Linked DNA regions of Homo sapiens: region 2 is linked to region 1. The links come from fine-mapping of genetic effects on gene expression. A gene starts in region 1. The other region holds a variant in brackets. All regions are shown on one strand. Distances are between the middles of the regions.

The links. PIP is the estimated chance that this variant, and not a neighbour inherited with it, causes the effect.
Region 2: its variant is fine-mapped to the expression of TRAF3IP3 in whole blood (INTERVAL, PIP 0.91).

What each region holds. Positions count from the first base shown.
Region 1 is chr1:209,749,301-209,764,309 of GRCh38, forward strand. It overlaps TRAF3IP3 (TRAF3 interacting protein 3), which reads left to right and starts at 6,753. Exons shown (of 17, transcript NM_025228.4): 1 at 6,753-7,009; 2 at 9,734-9,834; 3 at 10,682-11,084; 4 at 13,215-13,362; 5 at 13,513-13,570; 6 at 13,768-13,792; 7 at 14,063-14,092; 8 at 14,192-14,287. The coding sequence starts at 10,740. RefSeq lists enhancers at 2,683-2,792, 6,476-6,635, 6,916-7,325.
Region 2 is chr1:209,808,569-209,823,577 of GRCh38, forward strand. No RefSeq gene overlaps it. Among named protein-coding and RNA genes, the nearest start is that of IRF6, 9.9 kb to the left of the region's middle. RefSeq lists enhancers at 6,991-7,160, 7,137-7,911. The variant A/T (reference allele first, on the strand shown) is at 7,179.

The sequences.
Region 1 (15,009 bases):
TGAATATTAACTAATTTAAATCATCAAAAGAGCCCTATGAGACAGGTGCTATTGTGATTCTCATTATTAGTCAGAACACATTTGTTTTGGTCTAACTTAAAATGGAATTTAAATGACACACAGTGAGAAACACTACGAGCCACTTCAAATGTTTTTCTTCCATGGAGAACAGTGCAAGACACATTCTTTAAAAAACTTAGTTAAATGAGTTTTAAAACTTACAAGTTTAGATCAGACAAAATGCATTGACTCACTGAAACTACTCCATTTTCACACAGCCACAGATCTGCAAGTCCATTTCATCATAACCATTAATAAATCACAAGACAGATGCTCCAAATTGCAGGTGTTGCTAATAGTGATAGCTCACATTTCTTAATGCTTTACAAGTATTATATCTGGTAATCCTATAACAATTCTGTAAAGTAGATATTATCGGTTATAGCCATTTTACAGAGGAGGGAACTGAGATGCAAAGACCTCAAACGTAGTGTTCATGCACTCTAAGCTCAAACAGATAGTAAGGGGCAAAGCCAGGCTTCACACCCAGGCAGTCTGACTTCTGGTGTCCCTGCCCATCTAGCCCCAGGCTGCCACTCAGGACAGCTTCAGAGTGAGCAACAGTCTTGAAGTATAGATGACAGATGTGATAGATAAAGTAATCCTGTTACAAAGTTAAACATAATCACAGCTCTGAATTATTACAATTACAGAAAATTATTATAACATATTAATTTTTATTATGTATATTAAGTTGTATTTGCATTGTATTTGCCAGTGGCTAATTATTATCCTGAGCAATGCTGGGTCACGTGGCTACTGGTTAATGATAAGGAAATTACTAAACACGTTGTGGTACACTAATATTATGAAAGACCATGACGATGTGAAAGCTAAAAAAATGGAAAAAATGTAAAAGCAAAAAATATTTATAATATAGTATTAAGCGAAAAAACAAACACACAATTCATATAATTACATATTACAAAAATGTAGATTTCACTATGCTTAAAATATTATTAAAAAGAAATGCATATTATCAAAAACTAGAAGGTAGTGTGAAAAATATGAAACTAATTTGTCTTTGGGTAGTAGGTTAAGATAATTATTTTTCTATTTTAAAAATCTTTTAGTAATATTATATTAAAATTTGTATAAATCTGAAAAAAAAAAAAAGAAAATCCGAATGCTTTCCAACTCATTTCTCTGTCCATCTGCCTTTAGTTTTCTAAGCAAACCCTAAAGTTTCTCTCTGCAGGCGGGGGCGAGGGCGTGTGCAGGGAGTGCTGATGGCAATCTAATATGTGAGCACTTTTGGTGAAATCAGTTTGGTTCAGTGTTACAGCATCAATTTAATATTCTTTGTTATGGATGATAAATCATACTGAGTATAAAACAGATTCTAAAGGTTTGTGTAGAAATGTATAAAATGTATAGAAAAGTCTCTGGAAGATATCTCAGTTTGGAATGTGAAGGCATTTGTGAAATAATTAGGATAGTTTAACTGAGGCTGTGCCAAGAGATGACAATTTAACTAGGAAGGAAAATTGTCAGTTTCAGAAAGAGGATCACACTATTAAATGACCTAATTTTGTTAGACGGCCAACATCCCCAATATCGGAGTATTCATGAGTACAGTTACTAGTGCTGAGGCTCTCAGAATTCTTAGCTAAAGACATTGATCATGGCTCTGACTGCCTAGGCTATGTGAAAAAACATGACGTACAAAAAGTAAGTAGAAGTATATTTTAATCAACAGAAACCTCATATTTGTTATTTCTGTTGAATGATAATTTTTGGAAACTCAGTAATTTACGTAAGAATATCTTTTAAATAAAGAATGTGGGCCAGTCACGGTGGCTCACACCTGTAATCCCAGTACTTTGGGAGGCCGAGGCAAGTGGATCACTTGAGGTCAGGAGTTTGAGACCAGCCTGGCCAACATGGCAAAACCCCGTCTCTACTTTAAAAAATACAAAAATTAGCCAGCATGGTGGCGTGTGCCTATAATCCCAGCTACTCGGGAGGCTGAGGTGGGAGAATCACTTGAACCCAGAGGCAGAGGTTGCAGTGAGCCAAGATCGTGCCACTGCACTCCAGCCTGGGCAACAGAGCAAGACTCCATCTCAAAAAAGAATGTGATTTTTTAGCCACAAACTAGGAGTCCTATTTATTGGAAAACTCACACATACACTAGGGAGAGGAGGGTGGTGCTTCGGCTGAGCTCTAAAAAGCAGTAATTTTTCATTTATAAAAGGGCATTTTATGAGTAGAAGACAAGTCATTATGATATTTAACTCAGGAACAGCCCTATTTCATATTCTGGCAGGAGTCAAGGGTACAGAACCTCAAATGAAGGATAAAGAAGAGAAATGAAAGCTCTCTGAAGATTAACTTGTGGTTTGTCCTTTCCGTCCAAATAGAGATGGGTGCCTGGGAGGCCCCCCTTTTTCTGTTCTACATTACTCTTTCCTTTTCTGTTTCCTAATATACATACACTCCTACCTCTATACCTACCCCACCTTCACCCCCAAGCCTGAGGCTGCAGCCTGTCAAGGCCCTTCAATGTCACAGCCAGTGAGACCACCTTTCTTATGAGCCTACAACAAAAAGTAACTTGTCCCTTGCTCAATGCTGGACCCACAAGAACGGATCCACAGTTATTTGAGCCTTATGGTTAGGCCTTTCAGATTCTTAGAATCTAAACAACAGATAAATCTCTTGCTAATATTGAAAGTCTCTTACAGCATAAATTTGAGGTTTCATTACACGAAAAGGCTCTCTACCAACAATGATGATACAAAGCAAGCAAAGACAAGAGGAGGACTTAGAACTCTGTCCTGCCACAAATGTACAGTCATAACTCGACAGAGCAGCAACCTTGCAAACGTAGGAGTCAAGGAAATACTTGTCTTCCTCCTGGTGAGTTTAGACTGTATCATCTCTGAGAATGAATATTTGTCTTTGGGATGTTTGTGTGGACATCTGAGTAAACAGTTACCAGCTAGACACTTGGAAAACTAAGGAGGAGAGTCTGCAAGTCACCTGATAAGGAGAACTTGAACTTGAATGCGAACAGACTTAAGTATGCCTGCCCTGAGCTGTTCTGCAAAATTTGGAGTGCCAAGGCCGCTGTGGACTATCCTATTAAGAGTGTCTGCAGCACTATTCTAGAATGAATAACTTAGACTTGAGGAATGCGGTGCTGAAGAAACCTTGTCAGGAGTGTAGGGAAGGATTCTAAGGCAAGAACAACTCTTATGAATGAGGTTGCCATTTCCCAGAAGATAGGTAGGAGTCACCCTGTAGAGTGGAAAGAGGAGTGGGATTAGAACTGGTAACACCCATGAGGGGACCCCCATAAAGTGTTTAACTTCATGGTGGCTCATGCCTGTAATCCTAGTACTTTGGGAGGCTAAGGCAGGTGGATCACTTAAGGTCAGGAGTTCGAGACCAGCCGGGCCAACATTGCAAAACCCCGTCTCTACTAAAAATACAAAAAATTAGCCAGACGTGGTGGTGCATGCCTATAATCCCAGCTACTCCAGAGGCTGAGGCACCCGGGAGGCAGAGGTTGCAGTGAGCTGAGATCATGCCACTGCACTCCAGCTTGGGCAACAGAGCGAAACTCCATCTCAAGAAAAAAAAAATTTTTTTAACTCCTTAGTGCTGTCTCTTGGAGTATGGGAGAAGTCATATTAGCATATAGTTTAGTTACCCCAACTGTACAATAAAATCTGATAATCTTACACATGCTTGTGTGGTATTGTGAAGCAACCAGGCTATAAAGGAAAGGGTAGCTTACCCCATACTCATCGCCTCATGGGGGACTACACAGGGCCCAGCATCTATCAAGGAAACTGTTTCAGAATATGACCATCAAAAAAGGGAGCCGTTGTTCCCATTGAACCTGGAAATGATGAGGAGAAGCAAAGGATACTGGCCACTAAAAGCCTGGTGCCCAGCTCAAGAGCAGCCTGAATTAAACCCTCTATTGGAGGCCAGCTGATGATTACACTACAAATCTCTACTTGAGCTTAATTTGGTAAATTCATTTTCTTAAATCCATTTTATCTAGATTTTAAAAATCATTAGCATAGTTACACAAATGACTCTCTATAATTAATTTCCACCGTATCGTGGCTACTTTCCATGTATCATTCCTAAACTTTTATAATGTCTTTTCTCTTTTTTAAATTGATTTGGCTCGCTGATATTTTATTTTATTGATTTTGTTTTCTATTTGTATGTCTACCATTCCTCCCCCTGCCAGATGCACACACAAAACTGAATTTTTTTTATCAATTTTAAACAGGATTCTAACTTATTATATATTCTCCTTTTATCATTTCAAAATTCTCACCTCCTTTTTTTCTGATCATTTTTTAGCAATTCATTTGAAAATAAATGAATAGGAAATTTATTTTTAATCTTCTTGATTTAGGTAATGAAAATGTTTAAAGCTAGGAATTTTCCTTGCATTCTGCTTGGCCATACCTCACAGATTTTCCTCATAATGTTGCCACTATCACCGTTTTCAATGCATTCTTAATTGCAGATTTGAAATTCCCTCTATCTTTTCAGAGTAAATGGGAAGAATTTTTTTCCAAGAAGTTAAAGTGTTTCTTTCTTCCATCTTTTGTTATTTATTTCAATTGTATTGTACTGTGGTCAGAAAATCCTGCCATAATAGATCAACTTTTCAAAACATATACTGAGGTTTACTTTTTGATCCATATGGTCAATTTTTTTAATGTCTCGTGGGCATTTGAAAATAAGGTATATTTTCTATTCTCAAAGTTCTGTGTGTGTGTGTGTGTCTTTTTCAATATAGATAGATAGGTATGACAACCTTATTAATTGTTTTGTTCTCAGAACACAATGTTAAGGGCTCAAACCTACTGTCAAGCAAACCTGGGTCCAACACTTTCTGTGTGATCTTGAGCATATCATTGACCACTCTAAATCCCAGTTATCATGGGATTAGTATCCCAATGACTGCGGACTTTGTAGACATTTCTTTCTGATGTTTAATGGAGTCCAAATAGTAGGTCTCTATAGGAACTCCTATTAAAATCTCCTGTCTTTCTTTACGCTCTAATGCCCTGAACTCCCAGAATCTTCTCACTCTTCTATGCCAATAAAAATTCTCTGGCCAGGCGTGGTGGCTCATGCCTGTGATCGCAGCACTTTGGGAGGCCGAGGCAGGTGGATCACCTGAGGTCAGTAGTTTGAGTCCAGCCTGACTAACATGGTTGAAACCCCATTTCTACTAAATACAAAAAATTATCCAGGCATGGTGGCGTATGCCTGTAATCCCAGCTACTCAGGAGGCTGAGGCAGGAGAATTGCTTGAACCTGGGAGGCGGAGGTTGCAGTGAACCGAGATCGCGCAATTGCACTCCAGCTTAGGCAACAAGAGTGAAACTCCGTCTCACTCTGTCGCCCAGGCTAGAGTGCAGTGGCACATTCTTGGCTCACTGCAACCTCTGCCTCCCAGGTTCAAGCGATTCTTGTGCCTCAGCCTCCCAAGTAGCTGGGTTTACAGGCACATGCCATGACATCCGGCTAATTTTTTATATTTTTGGTAGAGATGGGGTTTCACCATGTTGGCCAGGCTAGTCTTGAACTCTTGACCTCAAGTGATCCACCCACCTGGACCTCCCAAAGTGCTGGGATTACAGGTGTGAGCCACTGTGCCCGGCCAAAATTCTCTTTTTCTGACATCTTGGGCTCCCCAAGCCCTCTGTCCTCTACTCATTCCCATCTCTATGTGTCAAGCTCCAGACACAGGGCCTTGAGCTGTTGTCTCTCATCCTGAGTAAATGCCACTTGTCTTCAGTCCTAGTGCTTGAGAATCCATCCTCTGCTTTTCCCTGCCGATTCCTTGTCCTTTTTCTCCTCAAAGAACAGAGAAAGAAGCAGAAGCAGAGAAAATGGTGACAAACTCTCCACATGTTAATAAATGTTATCACAGCTATTTTTAAGTCTCATTACCTGCCTCACATGTGTCAAACCTTAGAATTCCAAAGAGCCACATACATCACCCAACTACCACAGTGAGTAGCATCCAGACAAGGTGAATTTTACAAGGTTACAAAGCTGCTCAGTTAACTTGTCCCAATCCAGTTTCCTCTCCACTATTTTAGCCTGAACTTCTTGGGAATTTCCTGGCTGCATCATTTGTGATGGCTTCATCTTAATGCATGCAAATCAGTTCCCTTTAGTTTTTCCCTAAATTTCCTAGTCCGGTTGACCAGATAAAAAAATGTGTAGAAGACTCTGCCTTCTATTCCTTCCTTCATCCCCCAGCTACCCACCTTTACACTCCCTCCTCATTGCTCCAGAAAGGAGCAAATCCAGAGTTGGTCTCATTCCAGAATCTGAGAAAGACACCACCTACTTCAGAAGAGCAGAAACTCTTTACAACACCAGGATTGGGAAGAGGTGGCTAAAGAAAAAGGAAAATCCTTACACAAAGAACTACCTGATACACATGAAAGCCTACACTGAGAACATCTCATCTAGGTCTTACCACCAAAAAGGCATTTTTTTCCCTCTCATAGAAACCACAAAGGTCTGAATCTGACCCAGAGGACTATCCTTTTCTAATCATGGAAAGGAATCTTGACTTGAAACTGTCCAAGAGCTCCGACCAATCCAGTAGCAAGAGAAAGGGTGGCCGGGGTGCCTACTGATGGGAGGAGCTCCTGAGCCCAGCCCTGGAGGCCTCAGAGTTCAGGGGCCCACTTAGATGATACCAGAGAGCAAGAGAGAGGAACTGGGGTTTGCGAACCTTGTGGCTTTGTCTGTTTCCTGTTTCAGCAAGGCTGCTGTGCAAAAAGAAAGACGGTACCAAGAAGGGACGTGTTAATGGGGCCCAGACCTATGGATTGAAAGCGTGTGCTTTACCCATCTGCTGTCTTGCTCCATCTGAGACCAGAGCCAAGATCTGCCCAGGACTGGAATGCTTTCCCGAGTGGCTTGAGTTGGAGCCTGGGACTAGGAGGTAACTGAGAAGGAGGATGCTTTTGTGTCCAGGTTTGGGAACTCCAACTTCGGGGTAGGGCAGAAGATGCTCTACCATCCCAGCTCCCCTGGGTGGAGAGTGGGTGGCATAGTTTAAGGGTGTCAGGGGTTTGGGTAACCAAGAAAGTATCCTGTATTGGTTTCCTGTGGCGCTAGCCATGGCACAGGGTACAGCTTGCACCACTCCTCTGTTCCAGTAGATTAGATTACATTAGATTAGGAGTGAGTCAAACGACTTAGAGTTCAGGCTACCCAGTGATATGGGCATGAATTAAATGACCTTTTACAGTTTTCTTCAAAGCAGGGATCCCTGAACACAAGACTGCCTTCCCAGCAGCTTAAGCGCAGGCCCCTCTCCCCTCAGTTCACACTGAGAGCTCTGGGCCAGGAAGGCCAACCCATGCAGGAAGCCATTCATTGTCTCCATTACAAACATGGCCAGGAAGTAAAAGCGAGACTCAGAAAGGCATGTCAAGCCACAGTCAGGTGAGGAGCCATGCCCTGTTCTCTCTCTGCAGCCTGAGAGACCAGGCTGAGCCTTCCCAGCCAGTAAACCTTCTTCCTCCAAGCTCTAAGTGAGCCCAGTCATGCTGCCAGGGGGGAACCTGAGAGATGCCAGAAAGCCTGGGCAGTGGCCAAGTGATCTTTCTTTGAACCCTACAGGGACCAGTTCCCTTTTCTTTAGCAGCCTACCCCTGTCAGCCGTCCCACATACCTTCTTGTTTTCAAGCAAGTCAGTAGGGTCCAGATATCCCAGAAACCTGGGTAGGGTTCTATGCAGCATGCTGCACCAAATCCTAGCAGGTGTGGTAGCCAAGGCATCTGGGAACACTCCCCTCTCTAAGGAGCCATTTCCACTGCAGCTCCTTTCTTGGGTAAGAAGGCTCCATGTCTGCCCCAAGGAAGCAGAGAGCAGAGCAGCTGTGTGTTTCAGTGGACTAAGGTTGGTGGCCTGGGTGGAGAGCCCAGAGAGACCTCATCTCAGGCACTGTCTTCTCCCCCACAGCCCTTTCCTCTTCGCGGCAAGAAGGTAGGAGGATTCTCAATGTTCTGCCTCCACTACAAAACCTGTGGGGAAGCTGAGCCAAACAGGGAGGGGACCTCACACCTTATGTGTGACACAGGCAGACCCCATCTCTTCCTTACCTTTCGGCTTGGTGTAATTGGGATGGCAATTATGTCCAGACCACAGAGAAGCCTTTCTCCTTATAGCCCAAACCCAGAGGTCAGAAGTAAATGTGACTTCAGCCTGGGGCCAGCATCCCCTCAATCTGGTAAACAATATACTCTGTCAAAGAGAGAGAGGGTTGAGAGGATGAGAGAAGGCATTCTTGGTCCTAGAAGTGCTAGTTTAGCTTGGAGCCTTTGTCTTACAGCACCAAGTCTTCAATATCCAACATCGGCATAACAAGGATAATATTCGCAATTACTTTTGCACCAACCTAATAGGAATACTTTATGTCTTTATTATTAAAAGGTAACATTTATTGTGTGCTCCATGCCAGGTGCATGGCCTGCATTTTGTCATTTAATCCTTATAACCTACAAGGCAGGTCCTAGCCCCATTTTATAAATGAGGAGACTGGGGCTTAGAGATGTTTAATAGCTTATCTAAAAACACACACAGGTTGTAGGTGACAGAGCCAGGACATGAGTCCACGCAGTGTGACTCCAAGAGCCAGGGTTCTCCACTGCAATCCATGGCAGAATAGCCAGGGGCTGTGGCTCAGGGATGCTGTGAGTGTAGGTTCTAGACATGGAGTTCACATGCACATAATCCTGCGTCTCCTCCATTCAGTCATTTATAACAATAGACATGGGTCTCTCAGACCCTTTCTTTTAAGTCTTTAAATAAAGAAAGTGGCAGGGAAGAAGTCAAGGGACCACCCCCTATGCCCACTCCCACCCTTATCCGAGAAGAAGAAGTAAGGAAAAACAAAGAAGAGAGCCATTCAGAATGGGTATGTAGAGGACAAACATTAATAACCTCACATTTCTGCTTGGAATCAATGCTGCCTGACACCAGAGTATGCCCCTCCAACCCTCAAGAGTCAGGCATTTGAGTGTCCAGGGCTTGACCACACAAAACTCCTCTCAGGGAAGAAGACTGCCCCACCCATGACCCTGGGGAATGAGTGGTAGGATCAGAGAGAAAACAAGAATCCTGCAGAGAATTCCAGACTGAGCCAGAGTAGCGAAGTCCCAGTAAAGGGGCAGAGAGTCTGCTACCTGTTGAGTCTGTTTGGCCTATAAATAAACCCCAAGGGGTTAGAGCTAGCAAATGCCTGCTAGTTGGTGAAGCTGAGATACCCTCCTCCCAGGGTGGTGGGTAATGAGGTCGTGGGAGGAAGAGAAGCAGCAGCAGCTGTGAGGGGGAGTCCCTCTTCCTTCATCAGTCCCTGGTCTGACTCCAGTGATCAGAGGAGGCAGGACACAGAATTTCCAACGCTCAGGATCCAGCTCATCCAAATCCAGCCCAACTCAGCAAAGTGACCAGAGGGTTCTAGGAGGATAAACTACAGAAGGTAGGTGGGGAAGAGTAGGAAAGAGAAAGGCACAGAGAAGGAAAAGGGGATTCAGGTCTAGGTGCTATGTGAATATCAGGTAAGGCCATGCAGAGGGTCATCCTGTGGCCCCTACACCAAGCCTGGCTCCCTGGAAACTTCTGATTACTGTCTTTGTTTTGTTTCTTTTCTGTTTGCAGCAGCCTTATTGAGGTACAATTCATGTGCTTGTGGGTTTGGATGGCACAATCTGTGTCTGGGCTAAGGAAAGCAGACTTGGCACCAACATTAACCCTGACAGGTTGGTAATCCTAAAGAAATGGAACCCTCAGCCCCAACAGTATTGGAGCCAGATGCTCTGAAATGGGTTTTGGCCAGCACTAGGCATGTGGCAGATGCTCAGTCAATATTGATTGGACTTGATCTGCACCTGAGAGACACAGCCCAGTCCTGAGCTTGGAGTGGGGGGCCCATGGACCATTGTCAGGACAGCAGGTTGGAGGAATTAGGGTAGGGTTTCCCTCCTAAACCATGCCAGGTCCAGGCTCACAAGCTCGTTGCTAAAAGTCAAGAAGAGAGCAGTGGGTGCTGGTCACAGGACTGGTCACCACCTGAGGGGGTGTGGTTAGCCCTCCAGATCCTTGAGAAGTGTCACTCAACTATGTTAGTGACAGCTTGGACCAAGAGACCAGTAAAGATACTGACTTTCCTTTTCAACTGGGGGATAAGAGGGCAGATTGGCTCAACTTAGCTGCTTCTCTAGAAGTCTGGAAAATGAACACACACCTGCCATCCAAGAGGCTATAAGCTCATTATGATTTTAATCAATTATTTCTCATGTTCCCCTGACTCAGAGGCATGGTAAGATGTTCAGTCAAGGAGTAAGTGGCAGCCATAGAGACCCTTTTACTTTACAAAGGGGAAACATCGGCTAGAGAAAAGCAGGAATTCACTTTTATAAGACTGTATTAGTTCATTAGAGACTGAGCCCAAGAGTCCTGACTCCCACTTTGATACCACCATGTCCTCAGTTTTCAACCCACATGGATGGAACTCTGTGCTATTTCTGCCCCCTGGTCTAGGGAGATAGTCATTTTTCTGCCCATCTTCTGACCCCTCCCCTTCTCCTCCCTCTTGGCATTTGGCAGATCCAGGCATCTATTCCAGGAACTGGAAGCCAAGCGCAACAGGTGCTTGGAGGTCATCATGATCAGCCCAGACCCCAGGCCCTCCCCTGGCTTGGCCCGGTGGGCTGAGAGCTATGAGGCCAAGTGTGAGCGCAGGCAAGAGATCCGTGAAAGCCGCCGCTGCCGTCCCAATGTGACCACTTGCCGCCAGGTGGGGAAGACGCTGAGGATCCAACAGAGAGAGCAGCTCCAGAGAGCTCGACTGCAGCAGTTCTTCAGGAGGAGGAACCTGGAGCTAGAGGAGAAGGGCAAAGCGCAGCATCCCCAGGCCAGGGAGCAAGGGCCCTCCAGGCGGCCAGGACAGGTGACTGTCCTCAAGGAACCCTTGTCTTGTGCCAGAAGGATTTCTTCTCCCAGAGAGCAGGTGGGCCGTGTCAAGGGACATACTGCTGTGTGCTCTGGGACCCTCTCTGGACAAGGAGGGTGGGTGGGCTCAAGGTCACTAAAAAGTGACCTAAATCAAGTCCTTCTTCCTCAGTCATATAGTAAAGTTGCCAAGAGCTACTTATAGTAAAGTTGCCAACAGCTACTTATTCAGAGATTTTTGCTGTTGTGTTTTCGTTTGTTTAGCTCTTTTTGTTCTGCACTTGACTTATAAGAGAGAAAAAATAATTTTTAAAAACAATTTCAGGCTGGGCATGTTGGCTTATACCTGTAATCCCAGTACTTTGGGAGGCCAAGGCAGGAGGATCACTTGAGGCCAGGAGTTCGAGACCAGCCTTTTGATAGAGACAAGACCCTGTCTCTATCAAAAACTTTACAAACTAACCAGGCATGGTGGTGCACACCTGTAGTCCTAACTAATCAGGAGGCAAAGATGGGAGGATTACTTGAACCCAGGAGTTTGAAGCTGCAATAAGCTATGATCACACCATTGCACTCCAGCCTGGGCAAGAGAGGGAGACCCTATCTCTAAAAAACTTAAAAATAAAATAAATAAAAATAATTCCAAAGCTAATGCCTATATCAGTTCAAATTTAGGCAATATACACATGTCTTCTACAGCTATCTTACAGCATTCATTCATCCATCAGTCATCAAATATTTACTGAAAGCTTATTATATGCCAAGCACACAGGCCAGTCTTCTTGACACACACACAGACATATCTGTCCTCTTTTCTTCTGCAAGGCTGTTGTGCCCACTCTTCTCACTTCCTCTTGTGTCATTCCAATTCTATTAAATCACTTGACTATAGCCTCATCTGGTCCAGGAAGCTTTCCCTGGCTTCTCCAGGCCACCTCTGCTGTCTATGGGCCTTGTGAGGTTAAAATCTTCTAAGATTGTGTAACCCTTAGAGGGCCCATTAGTCTGGCCTGGAAAGGAACAATGTTGGCAAAAACCAGGGTATGCTGAGATGACCTTGGCCAGCAAACCATCTTCCTACTGAAGTTGTGAGCATGTTGACAGCAGGGATGTGTCCACTATGTTCCATGGTAATGCTTGGCATTGTTCCCTACCCAGAGTGGGTACTCTATCAGGGCTTCTTAACTAGTGGATCTGTTATGCTCAATAGGAGATGCTGTTCAGAGAAATGATCCTAGAGCCCAGTTGCAAAAGAAAAGGAACTGTATACTAAAGCAAAAAACCTTCCCACAACTCCCCACTTTACCTAGTCTTCACACAAAACCTCAATGATTTTCTAGCTGTTACTAAGAGAAAGGAGGCTTTCCTTTGAATATGGAAGGAACCTTATGGATTATCTATTCCAAACTCCTCACTACACAGACAGAAGACTGAGACCTAGAAAAGATGGGATCTGAACCCAGATCCCCTCACTCCCCACTCAGACCAGTTCTCTTTCCACATCACCATGCTGGCTATGTAAGTGGCCATAACCAAACAAGGTAGAGAGAGAAAAAAAAACAACAACTAGAGATTCTAGAGAGAAAACCTGGAGAAAAGTACAGCTCCACATATGCCTGGCCTGAGGAGGACCATTTCTGCCAGTCAGGACAAGGATATCAGGAGCAGGAGAAGCCTGTGTGGCTCTGAAAGCTTGAGTGGGCTACTTTGGTTTTGTGGATCTGAAACATTGTCTTCGTCCTGTAATGAATTACCACAGACTGGGTGGCTTAAATAACAGAAATTTATTTCTTACAATTCTGGAGTCTGGAGTTCTAAACCCATGGATTCTGCAGATCTGGTGTCTGATGAGAGCACTCTTCCCACTATGCAGATGGCCTTCTTCTCATTGTGTCCTCACAAGGCAGAGAGCAGAGAGAGAAAGCAAGCTCTCTCGTGTCTCTTCTAATAATGGCACTAATCCCATTCATGAGGGCTACCTGCTCTGACCTAATTATTTCTCAAAGTCTCCACCTCCTAATACTATCACATTGGGAGATAGGATTTCAACACACAGATTTGGGCGGGGGGACAATAAACACTCAGTCCATAACAAACATGATGGTTAGTTCTTCCTTCCGAAATCATCAGGAGAGTCTTTCAAGAGGCTCCAGGCAGTGGTTTTCAGCATTCCCCACTTGCCTTCCAGGTGACAGGCACCAGCTCTGAAGTCTTTCCAGCCCAGCATCCTCCTCCCTCAGGCATCTGCAGGGATCTGTCTGACCACCTCTCCTCACAGGCTGGGGGCCTTCCTCCACAGGACACTCCCATCAAGAAGCCACCCAAACACCACCGTGGTAAGAGCAGAGCCTCCCTCACTCCACAGGGCCTGCAGAGAATCCTGAGACAACTGTCCCAGCTCACTGGCAATGGAGAGTCCCTGTCCCTCCCCACTTCCCTCACTTCCTCCCTGTAAGTTCTAAATCAACTTATCCTCCATCTCTCAGGTACTCAGACAAAGGCAGAAGGACCAACAATTAAGAACGATGCCAGTCAGCAAACCAAGTGAGTTCCTGACCCTAACCCTCTCACATCCCATCCATTCCTCTCTAGAGAGAACACAATGAATTTCCATGTCCGCCTTAATTAAGAAAGAGGAAGCCCTTCCCCACCCTACTGGCTCTTCAGAAGGAATCAACCCACTGCCTCCTGACTTGATTCTTTGGTCCATTATCATTATTTTTAATTTCTTCTCTTTCCAGTTACGGAGTTGCAGTTCTGGATAAGGTAAGCACATATTCACTTTGAAGGGGTCAAATCAGAAAGTATTAAGCTCTGACATTCTGGAATTCCATGATAAACTTGGCTGGGATGGAGGGGCATCTTCTTCCTGGATGGCAAGGGGGTACTGAGCATAGACATGGGGACTAAAGGGACCCTGTCAGAGCCAAAGCAGAAGAGGTTTGCTCTACACAAGCCAGCCCAGGCTCTGGTTCTATATCCCAGGGTTTCAGGGGACTTACAGACATTTTGAATACCCTTGTTCTTTCTCTCCAGGAAATCATCCAGCTTTCTGATTACCTCAAAGTAAGTGGCATGTGACCCCTCCCCTCAGTTCCTCCATCCACTTACCCCCGATCCTCCAGGTTAATCTTACCCTCTTGCACTTTGTGCCCGCACCCCCAGGAGGCCCTACAAAGGGAGCTGGTCCTAAAACAGAAAATGGTGATTCTCCAAGACCTACTGTCCACTCTGATTCAGGCCTCTGACAGCTCTTGGAAGGTAAGGGAATGAAATTCTTTTTGAACAAAGCTTGGGCTTCTATGTGTTCCCATCTCATTTTTCTTTCCACATCATCACAGTAAGAGAAGGGGTTTTCTCACTACTGAAAAGTAAGCTGGGAAGAGGCAGGAGATGAGGGGGATGGTGCTCAGACCTAGAAGTCAAACAGGTCACAATAAATATATGGGTCATCACCTGAGGGTCATGGTGCTACATATCCAAGGAAGACCCAGAAACAAAAGTGGCAAGAATTCCCATTTTTTAATTTGTTGGAAGGAATGAAGGAAGATCCCAATATAGTTTACATTACTAAATATGCTAAATGTCAAATATTTTCATATGGGATTCCCACTGATATTTATCGAAACCAGCATGCCATGTACCCACTCAGTCCGAATAAAAATATCAGAGTGGGAAGGGACCTTAGAGACAATCTGGCCTAATACTCTCATTTTGCCCATGAGGAAACTGAGCTTCATAGGGGTCAAGTAACTTGCGAAAAGTCACACAGCTAGGTAGTGGCAGATCTGCAACTAAAATTCAGGCCTTTGATTTTAGTCCATTCAATGTACAATATTCATAGGTTATGTCCTCTATACAGAGCACTGGACTAGCACTAGAAATAATGAGATTATTTAGATAGGGTTCTTGCTTTGAGAAGGCTCACGGTTTTGTAAGAAAGACACATGACTAAACAATACAAAAACATGAAAAATAAAAGA
Region 2 (15,009 bases), 59 kb after region 1:
ATATTTTGGAATCAGAAAACTCAAGCTGGGAGGGTTCTTCTGGACTATCTAGATCAAGACTAAAACTGACTTAGCCAGTTTTTACCCACACAGTATTTTAAATATCAGGAGGTATCACATAAACATCAAAATTCTCAGCATCTCTTAAAGAGTCAAGTGCCCTGGATGCTCTACCAGCAGTTCTACCTGGCAACAGTTGCCCATTTAGAGGGAGTCTACACGTTACAGCCAATACAAACTCACTCTATTGAGCTCACTAATTTACTTTAATTGCCTGACCCTGTAGGCATCTGATTGCAACTTCTAGTCTAAATTCTCCCTTTTCATAGATGAGAAAACTGCGGCCCAGCGAGGTCAAGTGATTTACTCAAGGTCACATGGCATATTAGCCACAAACCAAGACTAGAACACAAACCCGGGGCTCTATCCACTTGGACCCCTGCTCAGCTCCGCAGCCAAAGTCTATTCTGACCTGTTCTGCACTGGCTGTTAACGATTTAAAAAAAAAAATCGCCAGGTGCAATCGCTCACACCTGTAATCCCAGCACTTTGAGAGGCTGAGGCGGGCAGATCACCTGAGGTCAGGAGCTGGAGACCGGACCGACCAATATGGTCAACTCTACTAAAAATACAAAATTAGCCAGGCTTGGTGGCGCATGCCTGTAATCCCAGCTACTCGGGAGGCTGAGGCAGGAGAATTGCCTGAACCCAGGAAGTGGAGGTTGCGGTGAGCCGAGATTGCACAATTGCACTCCAGCCTGAGCAACAAGAGGGAAACTCCATCTCAAAAAAAAAAAAAAAAAAAATCACCCATGGATCTAGGTACTGTTGATATTGTTGATATTGCCATAAACAAAACCAAGTCCCTACTCTCATGTCACTCAACTGAAGAATTAATGAAAGGGGGTAAAGCAGGTGGAATTAAGGTAGAGATCAGGAGGAACTCCCCGGCTCTGCAGGCAACAAGCCCTGACAATAGGCCACCCTGATGTCTTCTATTCTGATACACGCCTCATCTGCTTGATCTGGGGAATAAGAACATCTTGTGAGTCTTTCCACAAGCTCTTGAGGAATCAGTTCTTCTGTATTCTCAAAAGAGCCTCTTCAGGATTCAGTCATTCCCAACATGCCCTGGGCCTGCAATGCTCCCATCATTTTGCCCTCCATTGATAATCAGGTGCGGCATTGCTGACTCACTAGTGAGTCTGAGTTTCAGGTAGTGGGACGTACATTTCAGCACGGGGGCCCTGATTCACAGCCACAGGGAATGAGGGAATTCCCCTCTCCTGTTCCCAGTCAGCTCTCATTTGGTAGGAAAGAGTTTCTTTTTCCACCCAGAGACTTTAAACTCTACAATATCAGACATGTGACAATAAAACCATGAACCCAAATCCCACTCTCTTCTTGGCAGAGCAGAAAGCGTGGCAACTGGGACTCCTCCCAAAGGCTCCATACAGTGGAGAGTTTAGTGTTACTGGAGTTGGTGATAGCAAAGAAGCTGTGCACCTTTGGTGGAGTTGCTAAAGAGTCAGGTAGGGACATTGCACTAAACAATCCAATTCTGTGCTTTCAAAGGAAATCAGACTCCAACCTTCCTTCTGGAAGGCATTCTGGAGCCCATCAGGTCTACCCTCACTTTTCTCTTGGCCCTGGCTTATCTCTGTCTCCATCCAAGTATCTTAAAGCATCAGGGCCACAGGTGATCCTAACACATTGCCTAAGCCACAGCCTAAACTGAATGCACTCTGGTTGTTGCACTCTATAATGGCCTCCAAATTCTAGAATCACCAAGATGGCAGGAAGCATAAAAGAATCTCACTTTCCAATCCAAGCAATGGCACAGACTTTGGCTTTGGACTCTAGAAGAATTCTCCACCAAAGTGTTCAGAACATCTTCTGAGTCTTTCCATAGTTAGAAGACCCTTTTTATCCTTGAAGCAAGCTGAGCACTGGAAAGTGTTCTCAAAGAAGCAGTTTTTTTTATTCCAAACTTGGATCTCTATGGGAGGCGAAGGAGGAAAAGCAAAGCCCAGGAAATTATTTGGAAGTAAGCTCCCCCTTGGGGCCCTCCCTTCATTCTTCTGCCCATTCATTCCAAAGCTTGAGGGTCCACTTCCCATCTTCCCCAGCATGGAGAGCTTTCTCATTGGCTCTGCAGACAAAAGAGCTGAAGAAACTACAACCACCATGAATGTGAGAGTTCAGAGTTCTGATTCAAAGCTGCTTCCCCATTGAGACAAAACAGTGGCCGGATTTTGGCTTCATGGTCAGCACCAAACAACCTATCCTGTGACTCTATGCTGCTTTGAAATGAGATAGTGGATATGGACGCTCTCTGAAACAGGTGGAGTGCTGTGCAGATGGAGCGACCATCACTGCTGTTATCTGCTCTTTGTTTCCTTTGTGTAGATAATTCTCTCCAGGCTTCAGTCAAGCCCTAAGGGCAGCAAGGTGCAGGCCAGACAGGAACTAGCAGAGTGTTAGGCTCAGTTTGAGCTACAGAGCACTGGACAATGTGTCGATTTCAGAAAATGAAGACTCCAGGAGTACAGAATCTTCGGGGAGCAGTGTGGCAAGAAGCTGGATTCCTGTTCAATATGAGTGATTAACCAAATGTGCTTTTCTCTTCTCCCACCCCCCACCACCCCAGATCACCTCAGGTGATCAATGACAGTGAAGGAATTTTTTTAAAACATATTAATCTATAAGGTTAAGAGATGACAAAAAGCATGAGAGTCGAGATAAGAATGGATGAGAGAGCTCAACAAAAATAATAGGAGACAAAATATTATTTCAACAAAAATAGGATGTGTGTGGGGGCTGATGATTTGGTTATAAAGCTTTCAGTCCTATTTGGTTAAATCTTAAAGCAGATTTATATACTATTTAACGAAAATATTATCATTACTTGTTTTCAAGAAAGAAGAAAGAGCACTTGGGGAGTCAGGAGACCTGGGTGTCAGACTATTCTCTGGCACTCCATGACAGCAGAGCTGCATCAGAAAAACTAACTGTGATTTGGAATGAGTCAAAATTTGTCTCCAGTTTCCCGTCTCTCATTTCCTAACTGTCCAGGCAGTCTGAGCCTCAGTTTACTCACCTCCTAAATGAGAATGCTGCCTATTTCATGGGATTGACAATAGGATTCAATGAAATAAATAAAACAATACCACATCTTAGAAAATATCATTCTTCTCTATTGCTGCATCCCCCTCCCCAACTCTAGGCAAGGATGTGGCACAGTTCAGGGCACCTGGTATTCACTTAATTAAAACCTGCAGTGTTACTGTGTATTTGTTCTTGGGACAGCGAGGACACAAAGTATCTCTTCTCTGCTGATTGGATTAAGAGCAAGGCCCAAGTGTGACTCTCAGAGCCTAGTGAAGAATTCCCTTGAGGAGATATGGCTAAGGGACAGGGAAGACAGGGTAGAAACCAGAAGTTCTTTGACCAAGTAGCAGCCCCACCCTTCACCCCTCCACTGTCAGAATGTTCTCTTCATGTAGTCCAATGCTCAGCCTCAACCTATACTGGCCTCCTATCCAATTACCCTGGCCTTCTGTGGAAAAAGGTAAAGATGGTTTCCATGGGGAGTTCCACTCTCTTGAGTGGCTCTGGACTGGCCAGGGAAGGCCTAAGGACTACCTGCCACACTAATTTCTCCACATTGCCTAAAATTCCAGTTGCATAACATTCAAAAAGGTGATTCTATCTGGTCCCTGCCCCAGACACTGACAGCCTAAACCCCACCTCAATTTCTACAGCTTGAATCTCAGCTTTGTCCAAGCTAAGCTTGGGCCTAAGAAGTGGCTAGATGCTACAGAGGGTTAGCCCAGTCAAAGAAGAAAGGGGAGATGTATATATAAATAAGAGATTTTCAATAACAATCTCATGTAACCCCTGACCAGGAGAGCCCCAAAGTCAGGAGCAAATAGGATTTTGGTTTTTCTAAGACAGACCAAGACCAGGGCCCTGGGTCTACCTGACATGAGACACAAACATCATTCCTTCATTCACCCTTCAGTAAATCTTTATTGAGCACTATACACCAGAAGAATCCCCACCCTTTTGAAACATATTGTCTCCTGTTCCTATGAAAGCCTTCTGTTTAAACTTTCACATATGTGCCCTTCTGCTATAGTGACTACCTCCCAACTCCCAGCTTTCAGCCCCACTCCAATCTATTCTACAGCCCTCTGTGAGCTCCAGTCCCATCACTGTCCTGCTCAAAAACATTCTGTGATTTCCTAATGCTTACTGAATCAAGAAAGCTTATTCCCTCATCCAACAAATGCTTATTGTTTATCTACTATGTGCCAAATTTCTGTTCTAGGTGCTGGGGACACAGCAGTGAGCAAGACAGACAAAAATTTCTGCCCTCGTGGTGCTTATATTCTAGCTGGGGAGACAGGCAATAAACAAGTAAAGTATGTAAGTCCATGGCAAGTTCTAAGAAGGACAAGGGGGCAACTGAAAAAGATTAGGAGGGGGTGGAGTGGATCCAAATTTTACGTGGACTAACCAGGGAGAAGATGACATTTGAGTAGAGCGCTAAGAATGTGATGGAGTCAAGTGGGTATCAGAGGGAAGATTATTCCAGAAAGAGGGCCCGGCAAGTAAAAAGCCCCAGGGCAGGAATATACTTGCCCCACTAAAGGACCAGCAGGGAGGCCAGTGTGGCTGGGGCAAGGGGAGAGTTGGAGGTGGGGCATATGAGGTCTGAGAGGTAACAACTTTTACTCTGAGAGTAAGCGGGAGTCACTGGAGGCTTTTGAGCAGAGGAGTGACGTAGGTAACTTGTTTTGCACAATTAATCTGGCTGCTGTGCTTAAGCTAGAAGGTAGAAAAAGGTCAGGCAGAGAGAGACCAGTTAGAAGGCCCCTCTCTGGCCCTAGCCTACTTTTCCAACCATATCTTCTACCATTTTGCTACCCTTCAACCATAATAAATTTGTCTTCCTTGAATATGCTTTGCATCTGCTGATCTACCATCTTTAATGAAGTTGCCTCCATTTGGAATATTAATAACAACAGCTGGAACAATAGCTACTGCTTAATAAGCATTAATGACCATTCAAACACTTTTCATGGTTATCTAAGTTCATTTACAGACATCTTTTTTAATGTTCATATTTTGTTCCCATTTATTGAGAAAGCTGAGGCTTTTTACAAATTGTGACCAGCTGGAGGGCCCCGTGCCCAATCAAACATAGGATGTAGAGCCATTGATGGCCTTTTGGTCTCAAGTGGACCATTTCCATCTTTGAGGATCTTCACATGACCCTCTGAGTATTTTCTCAGCAGAAGTCTTCACAAAAGGAGAGGGGAATGTTTAAGATGATCCTTAAAGTTCAGTAACCATTTTCTAGATAGAAAAGGAGAACCAAAAAAAGCATTTCAGGCAAAGAGGATAATATTATAATAGTTCAGCAGTACCTCATGGGATAGTCAGGAAACTGCAGTTTGCTGAAGTGTAGCATTTGCAGGGATCGATTAGGCAGGAAACAGAACTGGAAGGAAGGCCTTGAATGTGACATCAAAGAGTTGGACTTTCTCCTCTTTACAGTGAGGGGCATTGAAAAGTTTTGGGTAAAAAAACAAAAATATTGTTTAGGTTGGGCAAGGTAAGAGTGTCTAGAAATGGTGAGGACTGTGGCTACCTGGAAAGCGTGCTTTCTTTCTAAAAGAAGCAGCCACTAAGCTCTGGCTGACGGCTGCCGGACAGAAATACAGGTCCAATGTTGCCACTGGGAAATCTAGATTTTTTATGTAAAATCTACTAATTTTTTATACATTTGCATTTTTTAACTTTTAATTACATGAGCCATATAAAACACCCCACAGGAGCTGCCATTTGGGGGCTTCTTTCCTGGAGTATGAATTAGCTCCAAGAGGACAGAGGCTTTGTCTGTGCTACTGTGTTCTCAGGGCCTCTCACACACTAGGTGTTCAACGTATCTTTGCTAAATGCATGTGTGTGGGTTAGTGATAGCATTTCTATTTTATTCTTGAGGAAACTAAGGCCCATAAAGGATAATCCCCAGGATCACATGAGAAGTGGTCAAGCTCAAGTTCAAGTCCAAATCCCTGAACTTCGAAATAGGCAAGTGGATTTGCAAGAGACATAGAATAAGAGTAGGAAGAGTGCTTCATCAGACCCTTCTATCGCCCCCTATCCCAGGGCTGCTCCCACATGTTACCAATGTCCTGTGCATGACTCCACCCGGTTTTCAATCCCCTGGGAAACTTTTGATCCTTCTGAGACTGTTTTACCCCTCTTATTTTGTTCAGGCCCAAGAATCAGAGACAAGGCTGCCTACACACCACCTGTCCCTCCCCAGCACAATGACATCTGCATACTATTGAGCTGCTGCTAGCAGTAGCAGTTTCTCCTGGGCCTTTCGAATCCAAAGAAGGACCCATCAAGACTACGCTGGCCAGGTGCCTTGCCAGCTTAATTCCCTGGGGTAGCCAGGAAGCTTCAAAGCTCTTGTCTGCTCTAGTTCACTATTTACAAAACACTATGAGAAGAGCTGGGCACAGCTGCTGCAGAATAGAAATGGAAGGTGGTAGGGAAACAGTAGACCTAGCAAAGGGGTATTTGAGGAAATACAGTACCAGCACTGGAGGCTTCTAAAATAAGAGTCAGTCCTTTGAGTGGAAATGGCCAAAGTAAATAAATAAATAAATGTTTTTAAAAGTAAAATAAGAGTCATAATTTCTACTAAGTCCTACTCAGTTGAAATAAAATAGATACTTCCTTTCTTCCTCCCTTCCTTTCTCTCTTCCTCTAGTTAGCCAGTTACTCAATAAACATTTAATAAAGAACTTCAGTGTTCCACATTCTTCATAACTGCCAGGTAATGATTTAAATGGTGCCCATGAGCTAAGTGTATGATACTTAATTCATGCACTTCTGATTTATTAAGAAAGGAGAAGGAGGGAAGGAAACACTAGCATGTTTTACCAACTATGGCTATTCACAGGGGGAATGTTGTTATTGTTCTTGTTCCCCAATACAAATCTAAGAGTAATTTACCTATGTTAGCTTTTCTGGAATTGTTCCAGAATCTTGCGCTTTGAAGGAAAAGTTGTGGCTGCGTATTCTGCCCCTCTCTGTTTGGAAATCCCCTGCACAGCTTTGCCAGCTACTCAGCTTGGTTCATCAGGGGATTTTTT[A/T]AAAATTTAGTTTTTAAGAGTTTTATCCAAGGTCTCAAAGCTGGTAAATGGTGAGTAGGAAGTTGATTCTGCCCGATCTGTCTGACTCCATGCCCTTTCTATTAGGTCATGAAGGGGAACCTGAGGATTGGAGCTTTGGAATGTTAATCTTACCCAAAGGCCTGAAGTAATACCCCAGAATGTGAACATGTGTGACCATCTGCCTGTCCTGGGGGTGGGAAGAAGGCAGCATGCTCTATCCTTGACCCTGATTGAGCCCAGGGGCTGAATCTGGAGCTTTGGGGCCTGGGAACCTCTCTACCTGCGTCAATGTCTGGAGGCCCTGAGAGTTTCGCTCAGGCTCAGAGCAGGCATCGCAACCTCCCAGTTACTATTCTGTGCTGTGGCAAGTGCCAGCTTGTCCTCTCTTCCCCACCCAGCCCGGGAAACCGGCAGCATTTCTAGTTCAGGCCCAGACCCGTCCTGGCAGCCTGGATTCCACTGCCTAGGCAGGAAGCTCATCTCAGCCCAGTGACCTTTTCTCTCTGTTTTTTGTCACAGAGGAATTTCCATGCCAGCAGTATGGGGCAATGGGGGTGGGTGGCCAAAGGTTTCCCCCTTAAGCCACAAGAGCCATGGAGTGGAGGTAAGCTAAGCAAACAGAGGAGGAAGGATGGGAGGGAAGGATCAGGAAGATTTAGAGAGTCCATTCCTCAGGCTGCTTCATCCTCAAATTCCAAGGTAAATAAAGGTGTTGGGAAGGATGCACTATATGTCCAGCTGCCCAGCCCTGAAGATCCTCCCCCTAGAGAACTGAGACAGGAGTTTTCTCACATTCCCACATGCAGGAGGGAAAGAGGCTGGGCCTGGGCAGGTCTAGAGAGTTCTGTTCCCCTGCCCCAGGGGAACACGCCTAGGCTTGCTGACCTCTCAGGTAGGAGTCTGTCAGGTTGGAAGCTGGGCCTCTCATTGTGTGTGTGTGTGTGTGTGTGTGTGTGAGAGAGAGAGACACGTGTGTGTGTGTGTGTGTGTGAGAGAGAGAGACACGTGTGTGTGTGTGTGTGTGTGAGAGAGAGAGACACGTGTGTGTGTGTGTGTGTGTGTGTGTGTGTGTGTGTGTGTGTGTGTGTATTGGGGGAGAGAAGCATATAGGATAGGGTGGCCAGATTTAGCAAATAAAAATACAAGATGCCCAGTTAAATGTGAATTTCAGATAAACAATGAATACATGAATACACTAAACAATTATTTGTTGTTTATCTGAAATTCACATTTAACTGGGGATCCTTGATTTTACTGGCAATCCCAATAAAGGGAGTCGGGGCTTGAGGGAACTGGACTGAGGCTGGCACGCCCATTCCTTTGCCTCTCTGATTTCAGTGAGGTAGGGCTAATTCCCAGACATATACCCCTGCCTTGACCTGCTCCTAACCTTGAAGCCAGAGAATCCCTTAGACATTGGCTTTTCAGGGCATACACGGGCCCCAACCCACATAGCTAGGGCTCCTTTGACTTCAGTTCTCAAACTCCAGAGACTTTCATGACAACTGTTAATGCTCCATCCTGGAGCCCCTTTGAAGATGAAAAGCTCTCCTGAGAAGTGGAGTGCTCTGTTGTTGTAATTAACATAATTAAAAGCAATTTGTCTCATAGTCCCATAGGAAACTGGGGGACTTCCCTTCTTGTATGAAATCCCCACCACACTCTCCCAGGAGATGGACACCACTTCTAACCCAAGCCTAGCCCCAGTCCCTGTTCCCACCCCATTCTGACTTAGATATAGAGGTTGTTTCATATTTTTTGTTTGTTTCACCTTTCAGATGATTCTTCATCAAAACAGGGCACCCAGATCTCCAGACACAGGACCCCATCTCTCCTGTTTGTGTCTGCTTTCCTGGGTTGAAAACACCTCGTGAATGGTAAATCCCAAAGCTTTACCATTTCAACCTTAGCTCTGCACCCAGTCAGAAAGGATGTCCGCTGCTGTGGTCTTACCTCTCATCCCACATGCCCTGACCACTAGAAGCAAATGCTTCCTTGATTCCAAGAGTCAGGCTGTGGCTGTGCAGAGTGACCAGGCAAAGAACATGTAAGCATTACTCTGCTAAAGCAGCTTGGTCATGCAATGGTAACCAGGGTAGGAAAGTTCATGTCCAGAAGCCCTGCACAGAGTCTGTTGTCTTAATTATTTCTAGGAGTGCATCCTTCTGCATTCCCCAAGGAGATGATAAACTCTTCCACAGAAAGAGCTGCAGCATTTCATTCCCCAGTGGCCCAGCATAGAGAAGATGTTGTGTTACTAATTGGGTTGGGCCAAATTAATCTATTCCTGATAGGCCAAAGAAGCATCTCTGTCTCTTTCTGGGTTTCCAGGGCTCTTACCAGACAGCTCTGGGGTTTCCTGGCATACCTACAATGTGATTAGAATTTGGCCTGTTGTGATTGTCAAAATGGGCCAGGCATGGTGGCTTATGCCTGTAATCCCAGCACTTTGGGAGGCCGAGGCAGGTGGATCACTTGAGGTCAGGAGTTCGAGACCAGCCTGACCAACATGGTGAAACCCTGTCTCTACTAAAAATACAAAATTAGCCAGGCACGGTGTCGGGTGCCTGTAATCCCAGCTACTTGGGAGGCTGAGGCAGGAGAATTGCTTGAACTCAGGAGGCAGAGATTGCAGTGAGCCAAGATCATGCCACCACACTCCAGCCTAGGCAACACAGTGAGACTCTCTCTCTCAAAAAAAAAAAAATCTAGACTATGATCATGGCAAGTTAGCAAGAGGCTATAAAATTTATCTGTCACTCAGAATCTATTTTTTAATACCTTTATGTTGGTTGTGCTTTAGATTCTCTTGGAAAATCATGAGAGGGAAGAGCCCTAGAGTGCAGAGGAAAGCACTCTGAGGGCTTGGTCTTTAAAGTTTGCTCCTCTCCCCGCAACATACACACACACACACATCCATGCATCCACACACACGCACACCTTCATCTGGGAGCAGCAGAGCTAGCTCTTCCCCACCCATTTTCTCTTTCATTCAGTTTAACTTAATAGGAACTGAGGCTTAGACAGCAAATAGTGCTCAATAACAATAATCATAGCCCGAATTGAGCATAACTGACCTGGCCTCTTTGAGATTCAGGGTTACCAGAACATGTCATTAAGGGATTCTCTGACAGAGGCTCAATGACAGACAGTGGTGAAAAGCCCTCTGAAATAGCTTCACCATGAGAGAGGAGACTCTGGACGGGTGACAGAGGGCCTAGAACCCATCAGACGGGGAGTTGGTTCTGGAAACAGCATGCAGCTGACACTGACACCTCCTTCCAACCCATTCACCTGACCCTATGGGACTGCTAGGGAAATGGCTAGCACTTGTGAACTGAAGAGTTTGGACCCTAAAGAGCTGTGCCATTGACAGCTAGTCCTGCATGGCAGACATGAAGCAGAGTATCACAAGTTACAGGGACCCGGGAAAGAAGAAAGGGGAGAATGGGGGAGAATGTCTGCTTTTGCCTCCTGGAACACAGCCAGATTTCAACAGCAACTACTCAAGATGAGGGTAATCAGGACTGACCCTTTGGACTGGGTTAGCATTTTTGAGAGACTTGGCCAAACCAGGGGAAAGAATGGACTTCCTACTAATCTAACCCTATAGAAGCTCAGCCTCACTGAGAATCCCACATTAAAAGAAACTCAGTCCTTTTCATTAAAGACTGAAACACAGAGACAACTTTTAAGAATGATTATTCTTAAAATAGCATATCCTACTTAGGAAATAAACCTTAACTATCTTTTCTTGGGAAAAAAAGTCTAGAGTCTTCACTTTTTAAATCAGGAATACAGAATTCTCAGGATTTCCTTTCCTTTAATGATTTTTAAAGTGTTTTTGTTTCTTGAAGAGCCAACATGGGTTTGAGGGTATATTCCTGTGTGGTTGAGAAAAAAATTTCTCTTTGTATTCCAGCAGACAATGTCCAGACCTGGCCCAGGCTGCCCTCATCTCTCTTAGCACTAGAACCTGTCCTGTCCCAAATACATTCACCGTCATCTACCTTAGCCATCAAAGGAATTACAGTTACAGTTACTTTAGGGCTGGAGAACAAAATTATCCAACATTTATCTGGCTCCCAAATCCCTAATTGTGTCTTCAGATAGAGCTAGAGGAGCTATTAGTTAGCAGAATAAGGGCAATACTATTCCACTGCATTCAACACTGAATTACAACCAGTTTTGCAATCTGCCTTTGTGGAATTTCCAGTGCAAGAATTTATAATAAACTCATGAAAGGACTCTTTATTTTTTTTTTTTTGAGGTGGAGTCTCACTCTGTTGCCCAGGCTGGAGTGCAGTGGTGTGACCGTGGCTCACTGCAACTTCTGCCTCCTGGGTTCAAGTGATTCTCCTGCCTCAGCCTCCTGAGTAGCTGGGATTGGGATTACAGGCACACACCACCACATCTGGCTAATTTTTGTATTTTTAGTAGAGACAGGGTTTTGCCATGTTGGCCAGGTTGGTCTTGAACTCCTGACCTTAAGTGATCTGCCTGCCTCAGCCTCCCAAAGTGCTGGGATTACAGGCGTGAGCCACTGCACCCAGCTGAAAGAACATTTTTAGTTATAAATTTTATTTCTAAAAATTTTAGTTCTAGCCAGAATGAATGCTTAACTAAGAAAGTAAGAAGAAACAAAAAAGTACAAGAAAATGATAGAAAATCTTGTTCATGAGAAGTGGGTATGGTTGTTAAAGTAAATATGAGAAAAGCTGGTGTTTTAGGGGCTTCACTGTCTAAAGAAGAAAAGCTGCCCCCAAAATGGAAGGTAAATAACTGCCCAAATAAAACATTAAAATCGCTGAAGCCTACCACACCAGATGTAATAGTCTCAGGGGTTAAGGCTGGGATGTCAAAGTTACACCAGGGAGTGATTTGGTAACAGCCAAAAGGCAGAGAACATTGATTTGGGCTAATAGGCAATTATAGACTCAGTTTCATTCAAGATTGTAATTCCTAACTGAATTTTTTTAAAAAGCAGGACCACAATCTGTACCCTTGGGATTTTTTACCCTTATTTCTCCCCCTCCAAAAATAAACAAATTCTTGTAAGCCATCACATAAATTAATCAACGGTGCTCAGAAGAGTCGTGATTTTCTTGGGCAAAATGGCACATAACAGGCAAAAAAGAAAAAAAATGCGTCATATGTAAGTCAGGCCACCTTAGGCTGGACTAATGACTCCCTCCTCTCTGTTCCCTCAGTGATGGCTCACACTTTCATGAGAGAATTTATCACACTGTGATGTTGTGGAGAATCACTGGCTTCTATGACTGCTCCCTTTCTCTGGACTGTGAGCTCCCTGAGGCCAGAGACTTTGTTTCATTCTTTCACATAAATTCCCTTGGCACTTAATATATCCCCGGAGTGCAGTGGTACAGAATCAACGATTACTCAGCAAACAAACACTCCCCAGGTTCTGTACTGCACCCAGTCCCCTGTATGAGGTGTAAAAGTCATTTAGCACTAATGCGTCACTAGGATTTGAATCCAGATCGATGTGAGTCCAGCATCCTCAGTCTTAACTCTTTTGTAAACCTGCCTTTCCTAAGAAGGATCAGTCCATAAATGGGAGACAACACCAGCTTTCCTCTTCCCCCAGTGGCTGCTCTGCCTTAGTCACCTTGCTGGTTCTTCTTCATCTGTCCTGTGTCTTAAATTCGCAGCTACCCCAGGGCTCAGTTTTCAGGCTTCTTCTCTATATTTATACTAAGTAATCTCATTCAGTCCCAATCATACACTGACCACTCTCAGATATGCTTGGTCATCCTGGCAGCCTGGACCTCTCTCCTGAACTCCAGATGTGCCACATGCCTGGACCTTTCCACTTAGATGTCTAAGGGGAATCTATCTATAGCTTAATATGTGAATTGAATTATCTGGACATCGGCTGGGCATGGTGGCTCATGCCTATAATCCCAGCACTTTGGGAGACCAAGGTGGGTAGATCACTTGAGGTCAGGAGTTCGAGACCAACCTGGCCAACATGGCGAAATCCATCTCTACTAAAAATACAAATAAAAAAAAAATTAGCCAGGTGTGGTGGTGCACGCCTGTAATCCCAGCTACTCGGGAGGCTGGGATGGGAAAAGCATTGGAACCAGAGAGGCAGAGGCTGCAGTGAGCTGAGATCACATGACTGCACTCCAGCCTGGGCAATAGAGTGAGACCCTGTTTCAAAAAAATAAATAAATAAATAATAAGAATTATCTGGGCACTTGTTGGGCAGATGGATGCAGTGTTTCTGAGCCCGCAGGGATAAAGGGAGAACATAAGAAGTTAAGAGCTGTGGAGAGCTGGACCCTTGGGTTCACCCATGTGATTCCATCATATTATAACCATATTCGCATAGTGACCAGCATGGATAGTGTGGATTTCATGGATGTTTCTGGTAAACTGAACTCATTACAGTCTCAAAATATGATAATTATACCAGGAGAGACTTGAGATCCTGGTTTCAATAAACGCTGAGAAGTAGGAGGAAGCACTTGGTAAACATATGAAAAAGTCTTCAAAGTCGCCCTGGCTGGAATGCAGTGGCACAATCTTGGCTCACTGCAACCTCCACCTCCCAGGTTCAAGCGATTTTCGTGCCTCAGCCTCCCAAGTAGCTCGGACTACAGGCACATGCCACCACGCCCAGCTAATTTTTGTATTTTTAGTAGAGATGGGGTTTCACCATGTTGGCCAGGCTGGTCTTGAACTCCTGATCTCAATTAATCCACCCACCTTGGCCTCCCAAAGTGCTAGGATTGCAGGCATGAGCCACAGCGCCCAGCTGAAAAAGTCTCCAAAGTCATGGTGGGCAGCATCCAAAGCAAACTAATTGCTCAGGTAAGGCATCAGAAAGGAAGGTTTAATAGCCTTGGCACCCACACCAGACATCCTTGTGATTTCTCTAAACTCCAAATCTGATCACATAACTTCCTTGCTTGAAATCCCTTATCAGCTCGTCACCTTTTATGGGATTGGATGTCAACTTCTCCGCAAGGCATCCAAGGCCTTTCATGGACTGGCTCCTCACCTGCCTGCTCTCTAACCCCTCCTGTCCTGCCCGTCCACCTCAGTGACGTGGACCACTGCAGTTATCCAAACACGTCTCTATACTTTTGTTCATGCTATTGCCTCTACCTGGAATTCTCTCTTCCTATTTATTCACCCAGGAAACCCTGACTCAGCCCATCCTCTGTGCAGTTCCCCACAAACTTTTCCCTCTTCTCCACGGCAGAATGAGTTTCTTTATCCTCTGGGTTCCTTTAACCCTTTTGTACGTCTTTTAGCCCATGACAATGTCATTCTTTGTTAATTGCTTTGTCTCTCAACTAGACTCTGAGGTCTTCAAGGGAAAAGTCTGATGTTTGAGCTTTTTAAATCCTTCATGCCCAGTGTCATTCTTGGAACACAGTAACTGCTTAGAAAATGCTTGATAAAATGAATGAATGTATGAACAGCTGAGCCCTTGCCGCAACAGACGAAAAATAGTATGTAGTTATACCAACGTCCCACTAGAGGGAGCAATGCAAAACTTGATGCCCTCTAACAGCATTTAAGGCTTGTTCTCAACTAAAGTAATACGATAAAATATTTTCCATTTTAAGCTAAACCTAATGTAAATCAATCCCTGATACACCTGATGAAACATATTTATAAATGTTCACTATATTCCAGGTTCTGAGTTTCACAGTGGATACTTCTTATGGGTACAGATGAATGGAAAGGGCAGGGGACATATGTACTCATATTTTGTATTTTTATGTTATGTAGCGTGCATCACAAAGCTTTGCTCTTCGCAGACATAATCTCA